Linked DNA regions of Homo sapiens: regions 2, 3, 4 and 5 are each linked to region 1. Evidence: fine-mapped expression QTL. A gene starts in region 1. Each other region holds a variant in brackets. All regions are shown on one strand. Distances are between the middles of the regions. Region 1 holds the start of KDM4C (lysine demethylase 4C). Region 2 overlaps KDM4C (lysine demethylase 4C). Region 3 has its middle 8.1 kb from the start of LINC02851. Region 4 overlaps KDM4C (lysine demethylase 4C). Region 5 overlaps KDM4C (lysine demethylase 4C).

What was found. PIP is the estimated chance that this variant, and not a neighbour inherited with it, causes the effect.
Region 2: its variant is the best candidate, but not a certain one, in a credible set for the expression of KDM4C in blood mononuclear cells (TOPMed, PIP 0.65).
Region 3: its variant is the best candidate, but not a certain one, in a credible set for the expression of KDM4C in monocytes after Pam3CSK4 (Quach 2016, PIP 0.83).
Region 4: its variant is the best candidate, but not a certain one, in a credible set for the expression of KDM4C in whole blood (INTERVAL, PIP 0.75).
Region 5: its variant is the best candidate, but not a certain one, in a credible set for the expression of KDM4C in blood mononuclear cells (TOPMed, PIP 0.56).

The regions. Positions count from the first base shown.
Region 1 is chr9:6,755,994-6,760,993 of GRCh38, forward strand. KDM4C (lysine demethylase 4C) reads left to right here and starts at 1,980. Exons shown (of 22, transcript NM_015061.6): 1 at 1,980-2,210. RefSeq lists enhancers at 71-782, 1,514-1,873, 3,074-3,293 and silencers at 1,914-2,153, 2,244-2,413.
Region 2 is chr9:7,045,655-7,050,654 of GRCh38, forward strand. KDM4C (lysine demethylase 4C) reads left to right here. Exons shown (of 22, transcript NM_015061.6): 16 at 1,208-1,263; 17 at 3,438-3,546. Among named protein-coding and RNA genes, the nearest start is that of KDM4C, 290 kb to the left of the region's middle. The variant G/T (reference allele first, on the strand shown) is at 2,626.
Region 3 is chr9:6,709,875-6,714,874 of GRCh38, forward strand. No RefSeq gene overlaps it. Among named protein-coding and RNA genes, the nearest start is that of LINC02851, 8.1 kb to the left of the region's middle. The variant C/CAAAA (reference allele first, on the strand shown) is at 2,810.
Region 4 is chr9:6,789,556-6,794,555 of GRCh38, forward strand. KDM4C (lysine demethylase 4C) reads left to right here. Exons shown (of 22, transcript NM_015061.6): 2 at 3,417-3,577. The coding sequence starts at 3,434. Among named protein-coding and RNA genes, the nearest start is that of KDM4C, 34 kb to the left of the region's middle. RefSeq lists an enhancer at 1-243. The variant T/C (reference allele first, on the strand shown) is at 2,726.
Region 5 is chr9:7,172,263-7,177,262 of GRCh38, forward strand. KDM4C (lysine demethylase 4C) reads left to right here. Exons shown (of 22, transcript NM_015061.6): 22 at 2,291-3,386. The coding sequence ends at 2,467. Among named protein-coding and RNA genes, the nearest start is that of KDM4C, 420 kb to the left of the region's middle. The variant T/C (reference allele first, on the strand shown) is at 2,168.

The DNA of each region.
Region 1 (5,000 bases):
TAAAAAAAAGTCATACTCTAATTCACAATGGTAAAGAAATGTTATTTGTGCATCTGCAAATTCTGAAGAAAATGGATTTCAGGTTTCCAGATTTTTTATTCTGGTGCACAAGATTTCTAATATAGCATATGGCTTCCAAAAGACCCTAGCTGCTTGATTGTGGACATATTTCTTAACCGCTATGCTTCAGTTTCCACATCTGTAACAATGAGGTATTAATAGTACCTATTCATTGAATTATTATAAGTATTTATTAATACATGTGAAGCTCTGAAGACAGTGTGTAGCTCACATTACTGTTCTAAGTAAGTGTTAGGTTGCATATTTATTATTTTAGCATATCCAATTTACTTGTAAGGATGGTTGGGATCCTGACGTTACATGCACACATTTGGAAAATTCCCAGTTGAGTATACGTTAGCCAAGTTCAGAATTGTGTGTGGCCGGGTGAAGTGGCTCACGCCTGTAATCCCAGCACTTTGGGAGGCCGAGGCGGGCGGATCACCTGAGGTCAGGAGTTTGTGACCAGCCTGGCCAACATGGCGAAACCCTGTCTCTACTGAAAATACAAAAATTAGCTGGGCGTGGTGGCGGGCGACTGTAATCCCAGCTACTCGGGAGGCTGAGGCAGGAGAATCTCTCGAACCCGTGAGGCGGAGGTTGCAGTAAGCCGAGATAGCGCCATTGCACTCCAAACTGGGCGACACAGCAAGACTCCGTCTCAAAAAAGAGTGTGTCTGTGTGTGTAGCGGAACTTTGTTTTTAACAACTAAAGAAATATGGTGACCCAATAATCCCGTTAGCCTTAGCTCAATTAATCACATTCCATCTGTCCTCACAATGTTCACCCCAGTGAGAAACGAGTTCAAGCGCGTGGTAAGCGGTGTCGATATATTTTTAAAATTCTGTTATCAGTATAATGTAACAGAAAATTCAGCATATTAGCCCAACTTTGCTCACTGGTGTGAAGATATGCCCAATCTTTCTTAGCTAAGACGTTAGAGAAAACGCCACAAGGGACCCAGCTGGGAGCTCTGTAGGAAGTTTAAAAAAAAAATCATTCAGCTTTGCAAAACATCTGATGCTCAACCATCTGTCTTTGGCAGTACAGGGGCTTAAGGTCTGGTTGGTTCCTTCTGACACCTCGGAAGGCGGAGTTACAGAGGAAAAGCAACAAGTTGTAGGAAGTTAACTTATCTAGTCTCAGACGCTGGAGGCACCTGCATTTCTAGTCACTTCAGTTCTGGCCAAACTGTTATCAACTCTAGTTTCTGAGGGACCGCCAGCCCAGGATTCCTATTGGGGTCACCTTTGTGCCTCCCTATCTTAAGAGCACACTTGGGCGGGTCGGGGCGGGACGTGCTGGGTGTAGGTGACTCAACACCGGACAGTTTTGCTTCCAGAGGCTGACACGCTCCTGCGCGGTAGTTGTTAAAGGGTTGGGACACGAAGATACTCTTCGCCTATTCGGGATCTCCCATTGTGGGAAGGAGGCTCAGTGGTCCCGGCCACCGGGTGAAGGGAGAACGGGAACACAGCGCTGTCATCGCCGGAGAGCTGCGAGCCCCGACTTTCTCGCCAGGCTCTCCAGTACATTCCGAGGCTCCACCCCGGTAACGCCACGCTGACGTCCGCGCGTCGGAGGCCGCCATAGGTGCGCGTCGGCGCCCAGGAGGACGTGTGGCGCGTGGACTACATCAGGTCCAGCCCTGCGGGACCCCAGCCAGCGCTTCCGGGCAAGGTTCTGTGCACCTGTTTTCTCCTTCTACGCGAGTATCTTTCCCCTCCGGAAAGAATGGGATATGCCTGTGTCCAAAGGACAAGAAGATGCGCGCCAGCAAGCCTAAGTTAACCACAGCGCGGAAGTTGAGCCCAAAGCAAGAGCGTGCCGGGCACCTTTAAGCTGTTTGTAAGCCCACGTGACTCACCAAGTGCGGGCCCCAGCGGTCACGTGACGGCGCGCGCGCCCTCGCGCAGGGAGAGCCGGCGGTGCGCGCGCCTTCGCCGCTGCCTCCCACCCACCCCCTCGACGGGAGGGTGAGGCGCGGCGCAGTGATCGGGCGGCCGGGGTCCTGTGCGCGTGCGCAGCGAACAGCTGTCACCTAGTGCGGAACAAGTCTCCCAAATTTCCCAAATCTCCCTGGGCCGGAGGCCACTGTCTTCTCTTCCTCCTCCACCGAGTCGTGCTCTCGCCCCAACCCGCGCGCCAGGTAACCGCTTTTCCGGAGTCTGGGGGCCAGGGCGGGGGGAGGGTCCGGAGAGGTCTTCCCGGCACTGCCCCCCTCCGCGTGGGGCACGGGGGTGCGGGCGTCCGGGCGAGCGGCGACGCTGGGGCAGAGACGCTCCGTCCGTGACTGCAGCGACTGTCAAGCTGGGGAGGGAGCGGCCGGCCGCGGCCGCAGGGGAGGGATGCGGGGGCCGGTGACAGCCCGCTCCGGCCCTTACCGAGGTTCGGTACCCGCGCTCGCCGTTTTCCCGGGATCCGGAGTCGGGGTCGCCTCCTTGGGGCAGAGGAGCGCTCGGGCGGTCCTGGGATGCGGACCTCTTAACGCCGCCAGTCGGCTGTGGCGGACTCCAGGAAGGCCGGGCCTGGTGCACCCCTCGGGGCCCTCCCTTCCCTGGGAGTGTCACGACCCGCGGGGTGAGGGTGGGAGCTCCTCTCCTGACCACCCGTTGCAGGCAGTCATCCCGTCATTCGGGGTCGTCTTCAGCCCTCGCGGCTGTCCTTTTGGTGTTTCTTTCCCCCGGCATGGGGCCATTTCTTCCTGCAGTGCCTGGAGGAACCATGATGCGGTGTAGACGGCGGGTGCTTAAATAAATGCGAGTTGGATTAGGGCGCGTGGACTGCCAGGCACAGAACGTGGCGTGGAGTGGGGACGTGGAGGAGGGAGCCAGACAGGCCGGGGCTGTAGGCAGGAGCTTGGGGTTTTCCTCTGTGCTCCGCCAGTAAAGCCAGCAGCCGGGATTCAGATGCTTTCCGCGTGGACTTGATGCTGGGCTCCCCCTTTGCTGCGCGGTGCAAGCCTGCGCTGGCTGGCTCTGATTGTGGGCAATACTACCGGGAGGGGTTTTGTCAGGTTCCTTCTTCCGGAAGAGACAAGGTAAACTTTTTTTTGCGCTTGATAAACTAACCCCGAGAGGTGATTTATAAAGCACTGTTCGGAAATGTAGGTTAGAAAAGCAGAGTCACTTTTATCCTGGTGAAAGTTACTAGTAGGTTCCGGCCACTTAGGTTCACACTAAACTCTGCCCTATTTTCACCCATTTCAGTTTGCGGTATTTAAAAAAATGTCTAAATTCCGGGCAGCTTGGCTTTACTGTTTCTATGGCAACGGTGACTAATATTCTCATTTCGAAGTGTTGTGGTTGAAAACTAGTGGTTTTAATTTTTAAAGGTCCATTTTTTATTAGGAAGCAGTCGGCTCTGCTTTGCGATTATCGCTTGCTTTCTTACCTTGCTGGCCTCCGCGCAACCCGCCCATAGTTTGTTTTGGAACGGATTACACGGTTGTTCGGGTTTTTTAGGTGCTTTTTCTCCCAATTTCAGTGTTATGAAAAGTTTTCACATAAGCTTTACAGTATCCCGCAAACTTGGTAATACAGTACAATTTAAACCGAAGACTTATTTCTTTTTATTAACAGACTTTAGTCAGTTGCTTTTCTAAAGTTGAAAATCAGACCCGGCGCCGTGGCTCCTGCCTGTAATCCCAACACTTTGGGAGGCCGAGGCGGGTGTATCACCTGAGGTCAGGAGTTCAAGACCAGCCTGGCCAAAATGGCGAAACCTCGTCTGTACCAAAAATTCAAAAATTAGCCAGGCATGGTGGCAGGCGCCTGTAATCCCAGCTGAGGCAAGAGAATCACTTGAATCCTGGAAGTGGAGGTTGCCGTGAGCCGAGATGGCACCACTGCACTCCAGCGTGGGTGACAGACTGAGACTCCATCTCAAAAAAAAAAAAAAGTAAAAATATAAATAAATAAATAAATAAATAAATAAATAAAAGCTTTTAGTAAATGAATAGTCTTGTGCAACCATCACCACAATGAATTTTTGAATTTTTTTAATCCCCAAAAGAAGCTCTGTTCCTATTAGCTGTCATTGCCTAGTTCCCTCCAATTCTATCCCCTTCTGTCCCTAGGCAACCACTAATCTGCTGTCTGTCTCAATAGATTTGGCTATTCTGGACATTTTATATACATGGAATAATACACTATCTGGTCTTCTGTGAGTGACTTCTTTCACTTGGCATAATGTTTTTTAAGGTTCATCCATGTTGCAGCCTGTATCAGTACTTCATTCCTTTTAATGGCTAATATTCTATTATGGATACATCACATTTTGTTTATTCATCAGTTGGTAGACATTTGTGTTATCTCTGCTTTTGGCTGAGTAATGCTATGAATATTTGTGAACTAGTTTTTGTGTGGACGCGTGTTTTCTCTACTCTTGGGTATATATATATATATATATAATGTAATTGCTAGGTTAAACATCTGTTGAATGACTGCATGCGTAAGGAGGGATAGTTAGTCTTGGGTGATACTCTTTTTTATTTATTTATTTATTTATTTATTTATTTATTTATTTATTTTTTGAGACGAAGTCTCACTCTGTTGCCCAGGCTGGAGTGCAGTGGCACGATCTCTGCTCACTGCAAGCTCCGCCTCCTGGGTTCACACCATTCTCCTGCCTCAGCCTCCTGAATAGCTGGGACTACAGGCACCCACCACCATGCCTGGCTAATTTTTTTTTTATTTTTAGTAGAGATGGGGTTTCACTGTGTTAGCCAGGATGGTCTCGATCTCCTGACCTCGTGATCTGCCCACCTCAGCCTCCCAAAGTGCTGGGATTACAGGCGTGAGCCACCGTGCCTGGCTTGGTGATACTCTTTCAAGCCTTGAAGGGGCCTGTTGATCTTTCCCTATTCCACTGCCAACTTCAGTTCTCCAGTTCTCTAAAGTGGGGCTTTATTCTATGGTTAATGCTGTGTTTTCCTTTC
Region 2 (5,000 bases), 290 kb after region 1:
ATGGATTCAAATCAATATACACAGTGTATCTTTTACTACTCTGAATCCAGGAATTTTCATATAGATTTACAGAGACTTTTCAGACACACAAACCTGTTGGACATTTCTAGTTGTTTGCATTTATTACTGCCTAACAAAAGTTATACAGATACATGATTCTTTCCAGTTGTTTTGGTATCGTTTTCCTCAGAAAAGTAAAAGCTATGAAGTTTCACACCTCATTAATAGTAGATCAGTTAGATGGATTCCTTGTAAAGCTAGGAAAAATTGTCAAAATTTGTTAAGGAACATCACTTTAGTGGACAGGGTAAAGAGGTTTCGTATATAAACTTTGGAGGAAAAAACTCCAAATAACTTCTACCAATTTAAAAAATGTATTAATGCAGAAAATTGAGAGGACAAGCTTGAAACAATTTAGGTCAAGAGAAGGCAGTGCACTGCTCTCTGGTCCTCCTTTTCCTGGTCTTTTTCATGAGAGTGTAGTGAGAAATAACTAATAAAATCTATATTTGTAGCAATTGGAGTCATCTTGGAGTAGAAAATTACATTCTAAGCTAAGACACATAAGAGTGCTGAAAGGTTAAGCTTATGTGGGAAGGATAAAGCAAAACGTTTCTTGGTGCTGTTTTCTCGGGCCGGATAGCTGGGGTTGATCAGGACACTTTTTATAACACTATTTGCCCACAGAAAGAGTGAGGCGCAAGTGTTACTTTGGTGAAAAGAGTATCGTTTAAAAATAGCCTCTTGCTTATCCTTGTAGTAGAAAAAAGCCTGCCCAGACTCCATTCATTAGCCACCCTGTATCCAGGAGTGAATTCCCAGAGCACAAGGCTACACCGTCGTGTGTGCATTCTCTGCTCTAGAATTCTTGCATATACTAGGTGTGTGGACTAGGTTCTCTGGACTGCTAGGTTCTCTGTGTCACAGCTTTCCTTTGATGACAGTGTCAATTTAAAATTATACCAGGTTCATTTCATGATGGTTCCCTCTGGGAGAATTTTATACCCTGAAATTTGAGGGGTGTACCTCTACCATTTCCCCCTCCGCTGTCTTTCTTTTTGAACTTCTCAGAGATAGACCTTCATGTAATTCCTGATGGTTTTAATTTTAGAATGAAAAATCAGGATCTCTGAGAATATTTAGATGAATGGTAATGACTTTTGTTATGTGGGTCTGGTCATCATGTGGTATTTTCTTTTCCCCCCAGGAATGCTGTCTCTGCAATTTGAGAGGAGGTGCTCTTAAGCAAACGAAGAACAATAAGTAAGTAATACATTAATTGTGTTGAATTTCATTATTTTTCTTTCTCCATTCTAGAACCTTTGGATGACAGTTCGCTTTACCTCTCATTGTACACGTGGTTTCAAAGCTTTTGCTGCTCAGATCTGAGGTTGGAATTCTGTGCTTCAGAGACTTCTACTGTTTGCACTCTCATCTCGGCAGGGCAAGAGCAGTCCAAGTTATGCTTCTCTTCTTTGTATTTGACACCATGAAAAATAACCCCTCTTTTACTCACAGAGTTTTGAAAATGGAGTTAGCCCATATCATCCAGGTGCCATTAGAATCCTGGTGTTTAATATGATGAATGCTATTGGTCTGTTAAAACAGGGCATACCTGAGAAAGTGAAACCGTGATCTTCAGATAAATCAGTCATAGCAATGATAATAAAACAAAACCATTTACTTTTTACATTAGCAAATTTATGAGAATGTAAGTGTACTAAATTAGAAAAGATAGGGAGAAAACATTGATGTTAAGATTTAAAGGGATCAGGTGGAGAATATGAAGAGAGTCTTGAAAGAGAGTCATAAGTGAACATAAAAGGAAGGCAGTCTAGTTTTTATGACTGTTCTGCATGGATTTTATTTTTTTTTCATGACCAGGTTTTAATATTGAAAATGGGGCCAAAGCATATTACAGGGTCCGCTGGAATAGAGACATGTCAAAATAACCTGGGCGGATTTTGCAGGCTGGCACTTGAGGGCCAGATTCATGTCTAAGATATGTTTTGTTGGACCCAGGCACCATTTTATAAATTGCATCTAAAATTTAAAATTGAGAGATTTTTACATAAAAATCCAGATTTTCATCTTTAATTGAAAATGATTGTATATCCCTATAAGGCAGTAATAACAAGTTGGGATAGAACCCAGTGTCAGTGGGGCAGGTACTCCTCAGTTCACCATGACTTCCTAGTATATGTGTATTTGCTTACATTCCGCCTGGCCCCCTGGGCACTGGAGTTAGGACTCCTGGTGTAATGTAATGGTGGATTTAGCATAATTCTTTACATGTGCACATGTTTCTGATTGCTGGGAAGGAGGAGTGAAGGTATTTATCATTATTACATTAATAAAATTTGTTGTAAGGAACTGTAGGGTTTGCTTAATTTTTGAAAGAAGATGTTCTTCCACAGTCCTGGTTGATATGATTCGCACTATACTGAAAGTCTTCACTAGTTCTTGGATATTGCACTGGATGCCATACTGTGAGATGGTTTAGGTGGTTCCTGTAAAAACACGGGTGATAAGACGTTCTCTTCCTATGCTTGGACCACAACAAAAAGAAATAGTGTTTTCTGTGGAATGATAGTATTTATTTCGATGTGGAAGAATGCCCTGGTG[G/T]GATCGATACTTGTTCTCTCTTCCTGTGGTCTTGAAAGACAGGATAGAGTCTGATACTGTTTGAGTGAAGTAAATATGCTTTGGCTTAAAAATAGGTTGATGGATTTGACAATTCTTTCAAGATCTCTTCAAACCTCATGATTCTTTATATTTATTTTGGGATATAACATTTATGAGACATTTAATAGTATTAACGGGAAAGTTGTCATTTTTCAGAAAGTGAAAAAAGTAGGAAACTAGGGTATGAGATAAACTTCATTTCTTTTTGTCTCTGGGTTTCATTGATTATAGTAAGATTGCAGCAAGAAACAATTTAATTAAAGATTAGCATTAATTCTTTTGGAAAACTTTTGCTACTTAAACAAGTTTGCTTCATGACATTTGTATTATTTTAAAAGGTTGTGTGCTATACCCAGTTCATACCTTTTATTAATTGAACTAATCTTTTGCCACATATTGATTAGCTTAAGTACTTTAAGCACATACATGCATATTCCAGCATCAAATGAAATAAGAAACCCACATTTCAGTATTTTGCAGATCAAGTGTAGAAAAATATGTGCACGTTAATAGGATAGAGTCGTGGGCCTTTATCAGCTCTTCATGGCACAATGTTGTTGGGCAGCTGTGGTACTGAGTCTGTCCAGGTATCATTCAGGAGGTTTACAGTTCAGAATCTGTTTGTGATGGATTTAGGCTTTTGGCTTTCTTGCTCATCTGTGTATTTCCCATCTGTGAGAACTGGCATCACCAAGTTGAAGTATGTAAGTTTAGGGAACTTTTGTTTATGTTTAATGTCTCCTTTCCTGTAGGTGGGCCCATGTCATGTGCGCCGTTGCGGTCCCAGAAGTTCGATTCACTAATGTCCCAGAAAGGACACAAATAGATGTAGGCAGAATACCTTTACAGAGGTTAAAATTGGTGAGTGGCAAAGCTTCTTTTTTACCTCATAAATTAGTGTTAATTTCAAGTTCTGAATTTTTCCATTAATGCACACATTCCCAAGGTATATTTTCTCCTAGCTTTCTTTTATTTTTCTACCCTTATTTTCCTTTAGCCTAAATTTATTTATTCTTACAAATTCTTTTCCTGTTATATTGTAAGTTTGCATATAACCTTCCTCAATTTCTGTCTGAAATGAGGAAAAAGATAGTAATACATTTCCTGAATTAATGTGAACTTTCAAACTATAGGTTATCTGGTAAGATTTGTCAGTACTGGAGCTGAGCCATCTAACTCTATTTAAATTGTTTAGATTTTTCTCTCTTGACTCTCTTTGGTTGGTCTTAACCTAGCAAAATGTATCTAACCTAATTTCATTATCTCTTCACCAAGAAGAGACACACAGAGAAATAAAGAAGCTTTTATTTTTACGAAGATATTTTCTCACTCTTGAATAGGTACAAGTCACTTAATATGCCAAACTCTCTGGCTTGTTCAGAAACTGTGTAAAAATCTTCCCATTGGTTTCTGTTAAGAGCATTTTTCATTGAAAATATAGGCCTTTATTGTCTTTAACATTGAAGTAACTTTGTAGTTTTATTCAATTATGAGCCAGCAGATCCTTAGTTTAGGCCCTTATATTGCATACCTAATTAGAACTTTCCCCAAAGTTCAACTGCATGACCTTAATGTATTGGAGCACGTCTTACAGGTGGACTTAAAACTCTAGAATTTCCTGAGTCGTTGTTATTTTCCACTGAAGGTCTTTCCACTGTACAGCATTTCAGGCATCATCACTATGACTCTTTTTTCTTGACTGTTGCTTGTTTTCCCACTGCTCTTTTCCCCAATGGCGAGCTGGGTGTGCCGTCTCTGGGGCTCTCTTATAGGAACTCACAGTCTAGCCTACTGTATTTTGTTTTCGGAGAAGTGAAAGTGAACACTGTTATTTGCCATCATACCTCCATCAAGAATTTCACTTCACTAGGAAATATATGGGCCTTTCATGGAACTGATGATTACTGTGGCTGATGTGAGTGTTGGGCTTAGGATGCTCAGCATGTGGTAGTTGGAAGTTTTGTAATCTAAGATGGAAATGAGTGGGCCATTTAAATGGCCCTCTAAAGGTCACAGTGACTGTCAGAAGAAGTAAGAAGAGAGTATAATTCTTCAGCTCCTGGACTTCCATAGGAAAGCTTGAAATCTTATACCCAGATTACCAAAAAAAAAAAAAGACACCAAAAAACAAACAAAACGTTTGTAAGAATTAGGACTATAAGATATGATATCCAAAAAAAAGTTGAACTACCACATGTTAAATAATTTAATGTTTGGTGTGACAAATATTAACAAATGTTAACATTTTAATATTTTTTTCTGATTATAAAAGTAATAGATATTTGTCAAAATTCTACACCACCTTTTAAAATCAC
Region 3 (5,000 bases), 46 kb before region 1:
TCCCGGGTTCAAGTGAGTCTTCTGCCTCAGCCTCCTGAGTAGCTGGGTTACAGGCGTGTACCCCCACGTCTGGCTAATTTTTTTGTATTTTTAGTAGAAATGGGGTTTCACCGTGTTAGCCAGGATGGTCTTGATCTCCTGACCTCGTGATCTGCCTGCCTTGGCCTCTCAAAATGTTGGGATTACAGGTGTGAGCCACCACCCAGCAAGGCTCTTTCATTCTTTTTTTTTTTTTTTTTTTTGAGACGGAGTCTAATTATGTGGCCCAGCCTGGAGTGCAGTGGCACAATCTCGGCTTACTACAACCTCCACCTCCCAGGTTCAAGCAATTCTGCTGCCTCAGCCTCCAGACTGGCTGGGATTATAGGCGCACACCACAATGCCCGGCTAATTTTTCTATTTTTAGTAGAGATGAGGTTTCACCTTGTTGGCCAGGATGGTCTCGAACTCCTGACCTCAGGTGATCTGCCCACCTCAGCCTCCCAAAGTGCTGAGATTACAGGCGTGAGCCACTGTGCCTGACTGGCTCTTTTTTTTTTTTTTTTGGGGGGGACACAGTCTTGCTGTGCCACCCAGGCTGGAGTGCAGTGGCATAATCTCGGCTCACTACAACCTCTGACTCCTGGGTTCAAGCAATTCTCCTGTCTCAGCCTCCTGAGGAGCTGGGATTACAGGCGCCTGCCACCACACCTGGCTACTTTTTGTATTTTTAGTAGAGACAGGGTTTCACCATGTTGGCCAGGCTGGTCTCAAACTCCTGACCTCAGGTGATCCACTTGCCTCGGCCTCCCAAAGTGCTGGGATTACAGGCATGAGTCACAGCGCCCGGTCTTCTTTCATTCTTAAATTAAAAAGTGTACACATTTCAGGGCAGGAACGGTGGCTCATGCCTGTAATCCCAGCACTTTGGGAAGCCGAGGCAGGCGGATCGCTTGAGCTCAGGAGTTTGAGACAAGCCTGGTAACATGGCAAAAATCCTGTCTCTACTAAAAATACAAAAATTAGCCAGGCCTGGTGGTGCATGCCTGTAGTCCCAGATACTTGGGAAGCTGAGGTGGGAAGATTGCTTGAACCTGGGAGGTTGAGGCTGCAGTGAGCTGAGATGGTGACACTGCACTCCAGCCTGGGCAGACCTGTCCAGACCCTGTCTCACACACACATACACACTATATATATAGAGAGAGTATATTATAATAATATTATTATATAATAATATATATAATATTATATATTATATAATATATATAATTATATAATATTATATATTATTATATATTATAATATTATATATTATAATAATATTATATATTATAATATTATATATAATATTATATATTATATATAATATTATATATTATAATAATATTATGTATTATATATTATATATGATGATGTGTTGAATTGCAACAGTGATTCTTGAAGGCATAAGTTAAATGCATAGGTCCTTTAATTATATAAATGCACAATATTAATTCATGTAAGTATCACATCACATCAAAGGCTGATTTTTTCAAAATATGTCTTAGTTCCTTAATCACTCCCAACATTCCAATAAAAAGCAAGCAGAAAATCCACTCTGCTTTTGATCATAAAGTGAAGACACAGAGAAAATTAAAGCCATAATACAAGTTAGAGACTGATGTTTTATATCATGTGCCCCCACCATGCATTTGCACCAGTTTTTTGCTGACGATGAAATATGAAGCAAACAGGCACACACAGATAGTGAGTCAGCCCAAATTAATGTAAACTATCATGGTAATAACTACTTAAAATTCATTAGGAGACCACAAGAAGTACAGAGCGTGTTCAGAAACCCAACAGCCAGCCTCCAAAAATAAAGCGAAAGAGAAAATATACAGGTCATTTCTTCTCCAGAGAATCAAGGGAGATTAAAATATTTCAACTGGGCTGGGTACAGTGGCTCAAACCTGTAATTCCAGCACTTTGGGAGGCCAAAGCAGGTGGATCACTTGAGGTCAGGGGTTCAAGACCAGCCTGGCCAACTTGGTGACATCCCATCTCTACTAAAAATACAAAAAATTATCTGGGCATGGTGGCAGGCACCAGCTACTTGGGAGGCTGAGGCAGGAGAATCGCTTGAACCCGGGAGGCGGAGGTTGCAGTGAGCCACTGCACTCCAGCCTGGGCGACAGAGCAAGACTCTGTCTGAAAAAAAAAAAATAAGAAAATCAACTGAAGGTAGACTGTTAGAATTTGTCACCCTTCTGTAAAATTTTTACAAGTATTTGCATGCTAAGAAGACAACTTTCAGAGTTGGCTAACAACGGTTAATGAGCATCCGCCAGATACAAAGCCCTATTCCATGTCAGCTGGGGTTGGTATTTAGAAATCCAAGGTAAGCAGGAGGAGAGTCTGTGGCCATAGCATAGTTCAGTATAACTACTAGCACTTGTCTGATGCAAGTAATGTAACTAAATGTAAACAGTCATAAACAATAAGAATTTATTGGCTCATAAAAAGGCAAAATTATTGTCAATATAGAATCATTTTTCAAAATCAATGATAAGGCTGGGCACAGTGGTTCACGCCTGCAATCTCAGCACTTTGGGAGGCTGAGGCGGGTGAATCACGAGGTCAAGAGATCAAGACCATCCCGGGCCAACATGGTGAAACCCCCGTCTCTATTAAAAATACAAAATTTAGCCGGGCATGGTAGCGTGTGCCTGTATCTCAGCTACTTGGGAGGCTGAGGCAGGAAAATCGCTTGAACCAGAGAGACAGAGGTTGCAGTGAGCCGAGATCGTGCCACTGCACTCCAGCCTGGTGACAGAGCACGACTCTGTCT[C/CAAAA]AAAAAAAAAAAAAAAAAAAAAAAATCAGTGATTACTGTCATTCTATGTCTATATTTTCCAGAGTCCACTGGAGTTTAAAACATCAAAATTTGACTCTATAATTTGCTATATTGTTACTATTATGAGCAATTGAGAAACTCATTTTTTACTAGTAATTAGTGTCTCTGAGGTGATTTCAAAGGTAATCATCTACATAATTGTCTTTAAAAGGATACAGCTATTGTGCAAATGTGGTTTATTATCAGAACTGAATGAATTATTTCATCTGGCAAAAAAATGTTAATTACAATTGAAATTTAAAGGTAATTCTACTTCAGGGACATAAATATAGTCATCTGGGTCATAATTTAGTAAATTGCCTAATTGGCTTACTTCAATAGCCAAGACTGTGAAATAATTGCAATATAACATCTGTTTCATACAGTGTTTTACTGCTTTAAAAATGCTTCTACTTTTTTGTTGTTGTTTTTGTTTTGTTTTTTGTTTTTTGAGATGAAGTCTTACTCTGTAGCCCAGGCTGGAGTGCAATGGCGTGATCTTGGTTTAATGCAACCTCTGCCTCCCGGGTTCAAGCGATTCTCCTTCCTTGGCCTCCCAAGTAGCTAGGATTACAGGCGTGCGCCACTGCACCTGGCTAATTTTTCGTATTTTTAGTAAAGACAGGGTTTCACCATGTTGGTCAGGCTGGTCTTGAACTTCCAACCTCAGGTAATCCACCCACCCCAGCCTCCCAAAGTGCTAGGATTACAGGCGTGAACCACCGCGCCCAACCAAATGCTTCTACTTTTAAAAATCAATGTATTGATATTCATAACTCTTCAGGGAAGTCAACAGCACTGATGTAGAATCCTTATTTTTCAGGTGAAGAAACTTGAGACACAGCTCTATAGTACAGTTGTCTCTCAGTATACACAGACGATTGGTTATTGGTCTTATAACCATTACAGGACCCCCAAGTATAGCAAAATCCAAGCATACCCAAGTCCTGCAGCTGGCCCTGAGGAATAAGAGTATAGGAAAATTGGGCCCTCCCCATACAGGGTTTCACATCCCGTGAATACTGTATGTTCAATCTGCATTTGGTTGAAAAAAAGCAGTGTATAAGTCGACCCATGCAATTCAAACCCATGTCATTCAAGAGTCAACTGAGGCTAGGCTCGGTGGCTCACGCCTGTAATCCCAGCACTTTGGGAGGCCGAGGCGGGTGGATCACGTGAGGTCAGGAGTTTGAGACCAGACTGGCCAACACGATGAAACCCCATCTCTACTAAAAATACCAAAAAGTAGCAGGGTGTGGTGGTGCATGCCTGTAATCCCAGCTACTTGGGAGGCTGAGGCAGGAGAATTGCTTGAACCCAGGAGGCAGAGGTTGCAGTGAGCCGAGGTTGCGTCATTGCACTCCAGCCTGGACAATAAGAGCGAAACTCCGTCTCAAAAAAAATAAAAAAAATAAAAAAATAAGTCAAACAACTGGGTAAATAGTAGAGCTAGGTCTGAAGTATAGGCCTCCAGACTTCCAGTCCAGTTCTCCTTTGCACTAAGAGTACAGAAGACTACTTTAAAAAGCAGATCCTGCCCAGTGTGGTGGCGTGTGCCCTAGTCCCCAGCTACTCCAGGGAGGCTGAGGCCAAAGGATCTGAGCCTAGGACTTGGAGACCAGCTTGGGCAACATAGCCACCCCGCCTATTTAAAAAAAAAAAAAAATAGAGAGAGAAGCTGATACTGGCTCTGTGTGACTTTGAGCAAATTACTCAATCTCATAGTGATTGAGCAAATCACTCAATCTCATAGTGAGGCAGTTAGTTTATCTGTAATATGGGACTATTCACTGGGTAATAACTTCACTGAGGGTAATAGGTGCTAAAACCTGTGGAGCACTTAGAACAGTGCTGGACAAATACTAAATTCTGTATAAATGTTGGCAATTCTACACCACTTTAACTTCTGAGATGGAAGCCTTATATTGTATACCTTATTAGTAATATACTCAAGGACACATGTAGGGCATGTTTCAGTTTTGTGGATATTGAAATACAGGGAAAACCATATTTTTGACTCGCAATATTCCCATGTTTTCGGCTTCATTATATTCCCACAATGTCCTTCCAACCAAGTAAACATGTCAAAACTGTGCCAAGAATACTTCCCTGGGATCACACACCACTGAGATATTTAATTATTAAAGAAGCT
Region 4 (5,000 bases), 34 kb after region 1:
GGGTTTCGCCATGTTGCCCAGGCTGGTCTCCAACTCCTGGACTCGAGTGATCTGCCTGCCTCGACCTCTCAAAGTGCTGGGATTACAGGTGTGAGCCACCGTGCCTGGACCAGATCCAGATGCTTCTAAAGGACTGTGTGTATACTATATAGAGTGAGGCTGCTATCCTGAAGCCCATGAATTTGGGGGTATGTACCTGTCTACACGTGAACAGAGGCAGGTAGGAATGTAGCCTGGAAGGTTTTTCCCTGTTGCAGGCCCCCTCCCTGAGGCAGGGAGAATTCAGAATATTTTCTACCATGTGTTAATATATTTTTGTGCAGATTATTTTCTCCTTTGGATTGTAAGTTCCTAAAGGGTGGTGAGGTTTAAATTTTATGTATCTCCTACTTCCTCATGTGTGCATTGTGAGATAGATGCTCATTTAAACTTTCTAGGCTGGGTGCGGTGGCTCACGCCTGTAATCCCAGCACTTTGGGAGGCCGAGGCGGGTGGGATCGCCTGAGGTCAGGAGTTTGAGATCAGCCTGGCCAACATGGCGAAACCCATCCCTAAAAATACAAAAATTGGCCGGGTGTGGTGGTGTGATCCGCTCGCCTTGGCCTCCTGAAGTGCTGGGATTACAGGCGTGAGCCACCGCGCCTGGCCAAACTTTCTTTAAACAAATAATGACTACATCACTATCTGTAGCCCTGCTCTGTTTTTTTTGTTTTTTTGTTTTTGTTTTTGAGATGGAGTGCAGTGGCGTGATCTGGGCTCACTCACTGCAAGCTCCGCCTCCTGGATTCATGCCATTCTCCTGCCTCAGCCTCCTGAGTAACTTGGACTACAGGTGCCTGCCACCACACCTGGCTAATTTTTTTTTTTTTGTATTTTTTAGTAGAGATGGGGTTTCACCGTGTTAGCCAGGATGGTCTCCATCTCCTGACCTCAACTGATCCGCCCGCCTCGGCCTCCCAGAGTGCGGGGATTATAGGCATGAGCCCTAGCCCTGGCCAGCCCTGCTCTGTTTTAACCTGTTACTATCTCATGACGTTTCACCCTTTTATCTGCCCCATCCCTCATTTCTAATTTTTCTGTCAGGCAGATTAAATTCAGCAAAAAAAAAAAAAAAAAAAAAAAAAAAAGAGGAAAACTTTTTTCCAGGAGGATTTGTTGTTTGTGCTGTCAGATGCCAGGTCCTAATGGATTTAGAAGAAGGTTGGGGTGGGACTCCTTCCTGAGGCAGCCACTTTAGTGCTTCTTACTTACCTTTGCATTCTGTGTGCCTGTCTCATGATAGGTGCTCAATAAATGTTTGCTGAAGGAATCATCCTGTTTATTGACAGCGAGATTAAGCCTGTGTTTTCATAGTAAAACCTGCCTACTTTCCTACTTTGATCTCCTATAGTCTTTCCTTTCTATGCTCCAGACACATTATTAAACTCCTGTCCGTTCCAGCGGTACTTCCAGATATTTCTGCTGCCTAGAGTGCCCTTTCTCTTGTCTGGCCAACTCCCATACCTTCTTATAAGACTTAACTCTCCCCCTTTCTGGGAAAATGATTGCTCATTAACCCAGGTGGAGTTAGTTACTTCTTCCTGTGTCACTCCATCACCCAGGCTGGAGTGCAGTGGCATGATCTCGGCTTACTGCAACTTCTACCTCCCAGGTTCAAGTGATTTTCCTGCCTCAGTCTCCCTAGTAGCTGGGACTACAGGCGTGTGCCACCACGCCCGGCTAATTTTTTATATTTTTAGTAGAGATGGCGTTTTACCGTGTTGCCCGGGGTGGTCTTGAACTCCTGGCCTCAAGTGATATGCCCGCCTCCAAAGTGTTGGGATTACAGGTGTGAACTATCACTCCCAGCCCTTGTGTACATTTTTATATTGAAGTTTGTTCAGCCTCTAGACAGTTTGGAAGGTGAAGACAGACCTCATCCCTTTCTGTCTCCATCGTCATTCTTTTCCGTGTTTTGCCTGGTGCTTGGCGATTTTGCTGAATGGATGGCTTGTTAATTACTGTAGGAAGGCATGATATGACAATCTGTAAGCACACCTGAGTAAACTAACGATTTTTAACATTCTCTACTCAGCCTAGACTAGGCCTTTGTACAGGTACGTATGTGAGTGAGAGTCTGTTTCAGAACTGGTATATAGAAGCAACATCTTTTGTAAACTTGCAAGGTTAGAAAATTCATTTTTACGGCCAGACACAGTGGCTCATGCCTGTAATCCCAGCACTTTGGGAGGCCAAGGCGGGTGGATCACCTGAGGTCGGGAGTTCGAGACCGGCCTGACCAACATGGAGAAACCCCATTTTTACTAAAAATACAAAATTACCTGGGTGTGGTAGACCATGCCTGTAATCCGAGCTACCCGGAAGGCTGAGGCAGGAGAATCACTGGAACCCGGGAGGTCGAGGCTGTGGTGTGCCGAGATTGCGCCATTTCACTCCAGCCTGGGCAACAGGAGTAAAACTCCGTCTCAAAAAGAAAAAGAGAAAAGGAAAATTTATTTTTACGTCTGGGCTCGGTAGCTCACATCTGTAAATCCCAGCACTTTGGGAGGCAGAGGCTGGCGGATTGGCTGAGGTCAGGAGTTCTAGATCAGCCTGGCTAACATGGTGAAACTCCATCTCTACTAAAAATACAAAAAAGGTAGCCCGGCATGGTGGCGGGTGCCTGTAATCCCAGCTACTGGGGAGGCTGAGGCAGGAAAATCGCTTGAACCTGGGAGGTGGAGGT[T/C]GCAGTGAGCCGAGATTGCGCCGCTGCACTCCTGCCTAGGCAATATAGCGAGACTGTCTCAAAAAAAAAATTTTTATTTATTTTTTATTTATTTATTTTTTGAGACGGAGTCTTACTCTGTCGCTCAGACCAGAGTCTCACCCTGTCACCCAGGCTGGAGTGCAGTGGCGAGATCTTGGCTCACTGCAACTTCAGCCTCCCAGGTTCAAGCAATTTTGCTGCCTCAGCCTCCTGAGTAACTGGGATTACAGGCATGTACCACCACACCCGGCTAAGTTTTGTATTTTTAGTAGAGGTGGGGTTTCACCATGTTGGCTAGTCTGGTCTCGAACTCCTGACCTTGTGATCTGCCCGTCTTGGCCCCCCAAAGTGCTGAGATTACAGGCGTGAGCCACCGCACCCGGCCTAGAAAATTTATTTTTACTTGGAAGGGTTTTGAGGAGGCTAACAGTATAGTCAGATCAGTGGTTCTCTACCTGGCATAGGGAACTTGGCAAGAGGAATGACTAGAGGCCCTTGTTTGTTCAGGGGTTCAGGCAGAGATGAGGGAGTCTCCCTGAGACTGGTAGAAGGGAATGGGAAGTGACTGAAAGAGAAGGGTTCCTGCTGGGGGAGCTGACATACTATTTGTTAAAAATGACCTAAAGCATATAATAATTCAGTTCTGTTGACCCTACTGTCTTCTCTCCAGACACTGCCCTAACCATCATGGAGGTGGCCGAGGTGGAAAGTCCTCTGAACCCCAGCTGTAAGATAATGACCTTCAGACCCTCCATGGAGGAGTTCCGGGAGTTCAACAAATACCTTGCATACATGGAGTCTAAAGGAGCCCATCGTGCGGGTCTTGCAAAGGTGATTATCCTTCGATGCTTTAAATGAAAAACAATCACTTGGCCTTTAATTTATGTTCTTAGTTTTCACGATTTGGGACATTGTTTCTGAAGGAAGAAATTTGCAAAATCTTTGTTCTCGTTAATCCATGTGAAACATTTGATTTCTTCAAATAGTAATTGTCTTATTTTTCCTTCAAGTATAACTATTCATACTAGGTTGTCTTCTAAGGCTTAAAAAAAAAAAATCAAAACCAACCAAGGGTGGCTGATGGAAACCAAGGAGATCCATGTATGGGTTTCAGAGGTGTGAGAGTATTCATAGTTTTTGTCAGTTTTTTTGTAGACAACAATTATTAACCTGAAGGTTAACCACAATTTCTCTCTCCTATCCTTTTTCTTTCCTTCTATGTTTTTTCTTTTCTTTCTTTCTTTTTTTTTTTTTTGAGACAGAGTTTTGCTCTTGCCGCCCAGGCTGGAGTGCAATGGCGTGATCTCGGCTCACTGCAATCTCCACCTCCCGGGTTCCAGTGATTCTCCTGCCTCAGCCTCCCGAAGTAGCTGGGATTACAGGCACCCACCACCATGCCCCGCTAATTTTTTTGTATTTTTAGTTGAGACGGGGTTTCACCATGTTGGCCAGGCTGGTCTTGAACTCCTGACCTCAGGTGATCCATCCGCCTCGGCTTCCCAAAGTGCGGGGATTAAAGGCGTGAGCCACTGTGCCCGGCCTCTTTTTTTTTATATAACACTTATTGATATATTTTATCATATAATAATATTGTATAATGCATCCATTTAAAGTGTGCAATTCAGTGATTTTGAGTATATTCACAGAATTGTGCAATCATTACCGCTATAGAATTCTGTAACATTTTCATCATCCCCCAAAGAAACTTCATATGCATTAAGCAGTCATTCTCCATTCCCTGCTATCACCCCCAGCCCATAGGCAACCACAAACTGACTTATTCTCTCTCTACATTTGCCTATTCTCTTTTCTTTCTGGTTATTTGTTCAACAAATGTGGAGATTGCCTGCTATGTGCCAGACACTATGCCAGGTGCTAGAGGTAGGGATATGGGGGAGCAGAACAGACGATGTTCCTGCCCCCATGGAGCTTACATTCTAGTTGTAGCATCTTAGAATGATGAAATAAGGACATTTAAGCACAGATCCAAAGGATAAAAATAAACCAGTCTTTTCAAGATATGGGGACAGAAAGAATAGCAAGTCCAGCGGCCTGGAGGCTGACCTGTACTTTGTGGCTGGGAGGAATAGGAAGGTGGTCAGTGGACTTGTCTGGCTATGGTAAGGCATTTGGGATTTTAAGTGTAGAGGGAAGCACTGACAGGCTTAAAGTGGGAGAGGAAGATATGGTGGCTGTTTGTTTCTTTCTTTTGCTATTTTTGGGACATTATTTTGAAAAGATCACACTGGCTCCT
Region 5 (5,000 bases), 420 kb after region 1:
GAGCCAGCAGTCCACCTCAGTGATTGTGTGGGGTTCTTTTCCACTCACTTCAGAAGCAGCCCCGTTACCTTTTATTGTCTCACAGAATAACCATAGCAACGGTGCATAATTAGCTAGAGCTCCTGGTAAATCGGTTTTATTATTGTATTTGAGAGGCCGACTTTTGCTGTTTCTGCACAGTGGCAACACTTTCATAGATGTTTTATTTTCTTCTTTGATAACTTTAGCACTTACACAAGTGAAAGATTACTCAGAGGAAGTATTTTGCCAAGAATGAATGAAACAAAAGTGTTTTCTCCTAATGGCAGAGGGAACCCAACCAGCCCATAATGATTTAGTTTTCTTCTCTAGTGAAACTAGGTGGTATGTGGGGGAAGCCGTGGAGGTGGCCTGTTACCCTGAGTAACTGTCCCATGAACTGGCTGGAAACATGAACAGCTTTACGCTTCGGTACATTTTTTGTTTTCAGGCTTCCTTGTGGCTGTTTTCTTGTTTTTCTCTTCTTTACTATGGACCGTGTGTTTTCAAGTCCTAAAGTGTCTTTCACCTCTGCCTCTGCCAGCAGCCAGGGGAAGCAGTCTCAGCACAGTGAAATGTGCTGTGTGTTGATGTCATCAGAAGTCATCCACCTCAGTGAAAACAGCTGCCAGTGCATTTTAGGAGGCAAGATAGTAGGGAATTGGGAAGCAAAAATAGTGCCTACCATAGACTTTAGGCTTTATCTGATTATCACAGAAAAAGCCACATGCCCTCACTCAGCAAACACTTACTGAACAGCAGCCAAATACTAGCCACATTGTTTGCTGTGGGGAACACATGTAAAATTGGGTACACAGTCCCTAATATCCTCACCTTTATGGGGTTCCCCTGATGGGGAGAAACTTACTTGCCCCTTACCTCTACCACTGCCCTCCTCTTACTGAGTGGATGTGTCAGGGCCACAGGAGTCCCAAAGAAGGACCCTTAAGCTTGCCGAGGGCAGAGACAGTAGAATAGAATAACTTTCACAGAAATGAAACAGTGTGTCCAAAGACAGAGAAGCATGGGGCCCTGAGCCAGGCAAGTATGACCAGGCCCTGCAACTGATGCCGTCTGAGCAGAGCACGGGGCAGGCTTCTGGCCAGGTTATGTAGGTCTAGCCTGGGGAGTGGGGATGTCATCTTGAAGGCAGTAGGTTGCTGGAAAATTACAAGCAAGGGCATATGATCATGTAGAGTCTTATAATAAGAGGGCTTTTAGAGAGCTTTCTTCCAGTGGTACTGTGGGAAATAGGTTGGAGGTACAGCATTTATTGCAGTGCTTTGCAGAGGTGAGGGCCTGCCCCATAGGGTAAGGATCAAGAAGAAAGGCTGAAGGGCTTCAAGGTACATGCAGGAGGAATCCTGGACACGGTGGGGAAATGTCTACAGTGCCTTTAGGTTTCTGGCCAATGTAACTGGGTGCATGGGCATGGTGGTGCCTTTTATGGAATGTAGGAAGGACAGCAATGAAGAAGGAAGGCTTTCAGTTCAATTTAGGACAGGTTGATTTGAAGGGCCTCTGAGACAGGGACTTTGTGATGCCTGCTGGGGAAATGCACTTACAGGCCTGAGCTGGAGCAGATGTGAGCATCTCCTGCAGACACTGAAGCCAGGGGTGTGGGCACAAAGGCCCAGGGAACAGGAGTGGAGAGGAGAAGGCCCAGTGCCAAACCTTAGGGCATCGTAGTTGAGCAGATAGTTAAGAAAGGGAACCCCTGAGACATCAAAAGTGAGCAGCCAGAGAAGGAGAAGCAGGAGAGTGGGTTTACAAAATGACAGAGAAGAGAGCTTTAAGCAGTAATTAGTTGGCAGACTAGTCAAGTCAGTTTAGGGATAGGAAGGTGTCACAGGAATTAGCAACTAGGACTTCATTCAGCAAGAACAGTTTCAGGGAAGGGGTGGGGCAGAGGCCCAAAGCTAAGTAGGAGTAAAGGTAACTTAGAGATGACTGTTGACATTTGTCAAAAACAGAGGGGAGATGAAAAATGAGGGAAGTTTAAAACGAGAAGACTTTAATCTTGCTTTTGTTTGGGGAAGGTCCCTGGGGTTGGAGGGTGGGGAGATCCTGGAGAAAGTAGGGCTAAATGGAGCCCCCCACTTTGGGTGGGAGAGGCGAGGGAAAGCCCAAAGCCATGCCTGGGGCCCTT[T/C]TAGCCTGAGCTGGTGACCTGGGCATCTGCACCCTAACCCCAGCTGACCGAGTCAGATCTTTGTCCAGTGTTCTGAAGATCAAATGCCGTGCCCTTTTGCAATATAACACCAGCTGCTTTTAGTCCACAGCCTCTGACATGCGATTTGAAGACACGTTTTATGGAGCAGACATTATCCAAGGGGAGAGAAAGAGACAAAGAGTGCTGAGCTCCAGGTTTAAGAATGAATATGTGGCCGACCCTGTATACCGCACTTTTTTGAAGAGCTCTTTCCAGAAGAAGTGCCAGAAGAGACAGTAGTCTGCATACATCGCTGCAGGCCACAGAGCAGCTTGGGTTGGAAGAGAGAAGATGAAGGGACATCCTTGGGGCTGTGCCGTGAGTTTTGCTGGCATAGGTGACAGGGTGTGTCTCTGACAGTGGTAAATCGGGTTTCCAGAGTTTGGTCACCAAAAATACAAAATACACCCAATGAATTGGACGCAGCAATCTGAAATCATCTCTAGTCTTGCTTTCACTTGTGAGCAGTTGTCTTCTATGATCCCAAAGAAGTTTTCTAAGTGAAAGGAAATACTAGTGAATCACCCACAAGGAAAAGCCACTGCCACAGAGGAGGCGGGTCCCCTTGTGCGGCTTAGGGCCCTGTCAGGAAACACACGGGGACCTCTCTCTCTAGCTCCAGCAGGTGGCACCTCGGTACCCAGCGGGTAGGGCGATAATTTATATATTTTCCACAGTCAGGGAAGGACTCTCACTTATTTGTTTCAAATTGCAGTTTTTATAAAACATTTTTAAAACACAAATGGCATGTATGCTAATGAGATTTACCCGTGTGCTATCTGTATTTCCCTTGTACAGAACTTTTACATTTTTGAATATTCCTATTACTTTTGATTGTGTCTGATGGGAACTGAGTTGTTGGCCTTTGTGAAATGAAATTTTTGGCTCTTGAGAAAGAATTCTTATGAATTGTTATGCGAATTTTATATATTTAAAGAGGGAGATCTGGGGCTGTTATTTTTAAACACTTTTTTTCATAATACATATTCCGAGTAGATATTTATAAAATATATGTTTCTTTCATTATGTGTTTGTAAAATTAGAGTTTAAATAAATATGCTTTGATGCATAGTTTTGAACTAATGTAACATGATTTTTCTTTTTTAAAACAGCCTGAAAATGTACTAGTGTTTAAAAATAAAGATTTCCATTTTCTCCAGTCCTGTCTCTGACTTGCTTATTTGTCTGGGTTTAAACCAGTAGAAAAACAAGTTTATTGGAGAGCTGGCTATCAGGACATACTGCGGCCCAGGTTTTTCAGACCCTCCTTCTGTCGCTGACTTTTTCCATGGTTGTGGCACATGCATGGCGATATTTTTGGAGACAAAGTCCCCTGCCTGCCTACTTCAGTACCAATGGAAGTGTTTTCTTCAACTTCTTCTAGGCCCTGAATACATCTCAGACCCTTGAGTCTGGATCACTTTTCGTTCCAGGATTCCTGGTCCGCAGCTGTCATTAGTAGGAATTAGAGGTCCTCCAGTCCCTCCTTCATTGTATAAATGAGACCCGGAGGATAGACAGGAAAAGGGATGCCCAAGGGCAGGCAGTTTTGGTGACTGCTTCAGTTAACTGGGGCCACCATTTTGCCGCATTGCAAACAATTGCAAAATTGCAAAATCTTAGTGGCCTGCAGCAAAAAGCATTTATTTCTCTCATCTAGGCAGGGCTTGGCTGGACAGCCGTGCTGACCTTGGCTTGGACTAGCTCACACACCTGCTCCGTGGGTCTCCCATCATTCTAGTGGACCCAGTGGGCAGCCCGGATATGTTCTTCTCATGTCAATGGCAGAGGCAGGAGAGCAAGGAAGCCCAGCCAAGTAAGCACATTTCAGTCCTCTATGGGGCACTGGTTAACATCCTATGGGCAAAAGCCCAGAGCCAGGGACTGGGATGGCATTTCAGACTTTTATGGCAAAGGGTATGGGTGTATCCTGGTCCTGAATAGAGAGTGAAGACCAAAACAGTAAGGAAAGAGCCACAGCTAAAACCCAGTTCCCTAGACTGCTCCCTGGCTAGGTGCTCATATTCCAGAGTACCTTGTGGCTGAACTCTGAGCTGGGGTAGAGCCCAGCAGCCTTCTTTTTACAGAGACTAAGCACTCCACATTCTCTACCAGTGTAGTCATATATTTTATCAACTAATCAAGCTTGAATTTTCTATCTCTAGGTTTTGAATGGAACTGACCTGCTCTCTCTATAATATGCCAGGAAAGTAGGCCTGGTTAAGGCATTAAGAGGAATTAATCTAAATAGGATCATTTGTTCTGTACAAGTTTGCCTGTCAGCAAGATTTCTGATTGGCTGCCACAGGGAGAAAATGTGCAGAGGTCTATGCGATCTCAAATACAGCTGTTTTTTATAGTCTCACTTAACATATGTGCCTATAACCAAGTACAGCTGTATATGGCCTTAGTAAAATAGTGCTGGCCACAAATGCACTCTGGCTATTGAGAAAGGCACCTTTGTTTCACTGCATTCTGCATAAAGTGGTTATTAGCTCTATGACCAGACAGACCGTTAAACCATTTTCACTTACTGTGTGGCACCTCAATTGTGATTTTAATTTTTTTGCGTTACACTAGCTGCATGTTTAGTGTATACGTGTAGCATAAAATCAGCTGAAGTCCTTCTAGTATTAAAAAAAAATTGCTTAGCTGTGACAATTCTAATGTAACACTAATTGCAAGCCCTTTCTCTGGAGGTTAAGGGATTAGTAAACACGGCCTGGCATATTTCATAACATTTTAATTCCTTTTTGTGTGTTTGAAATGAGAA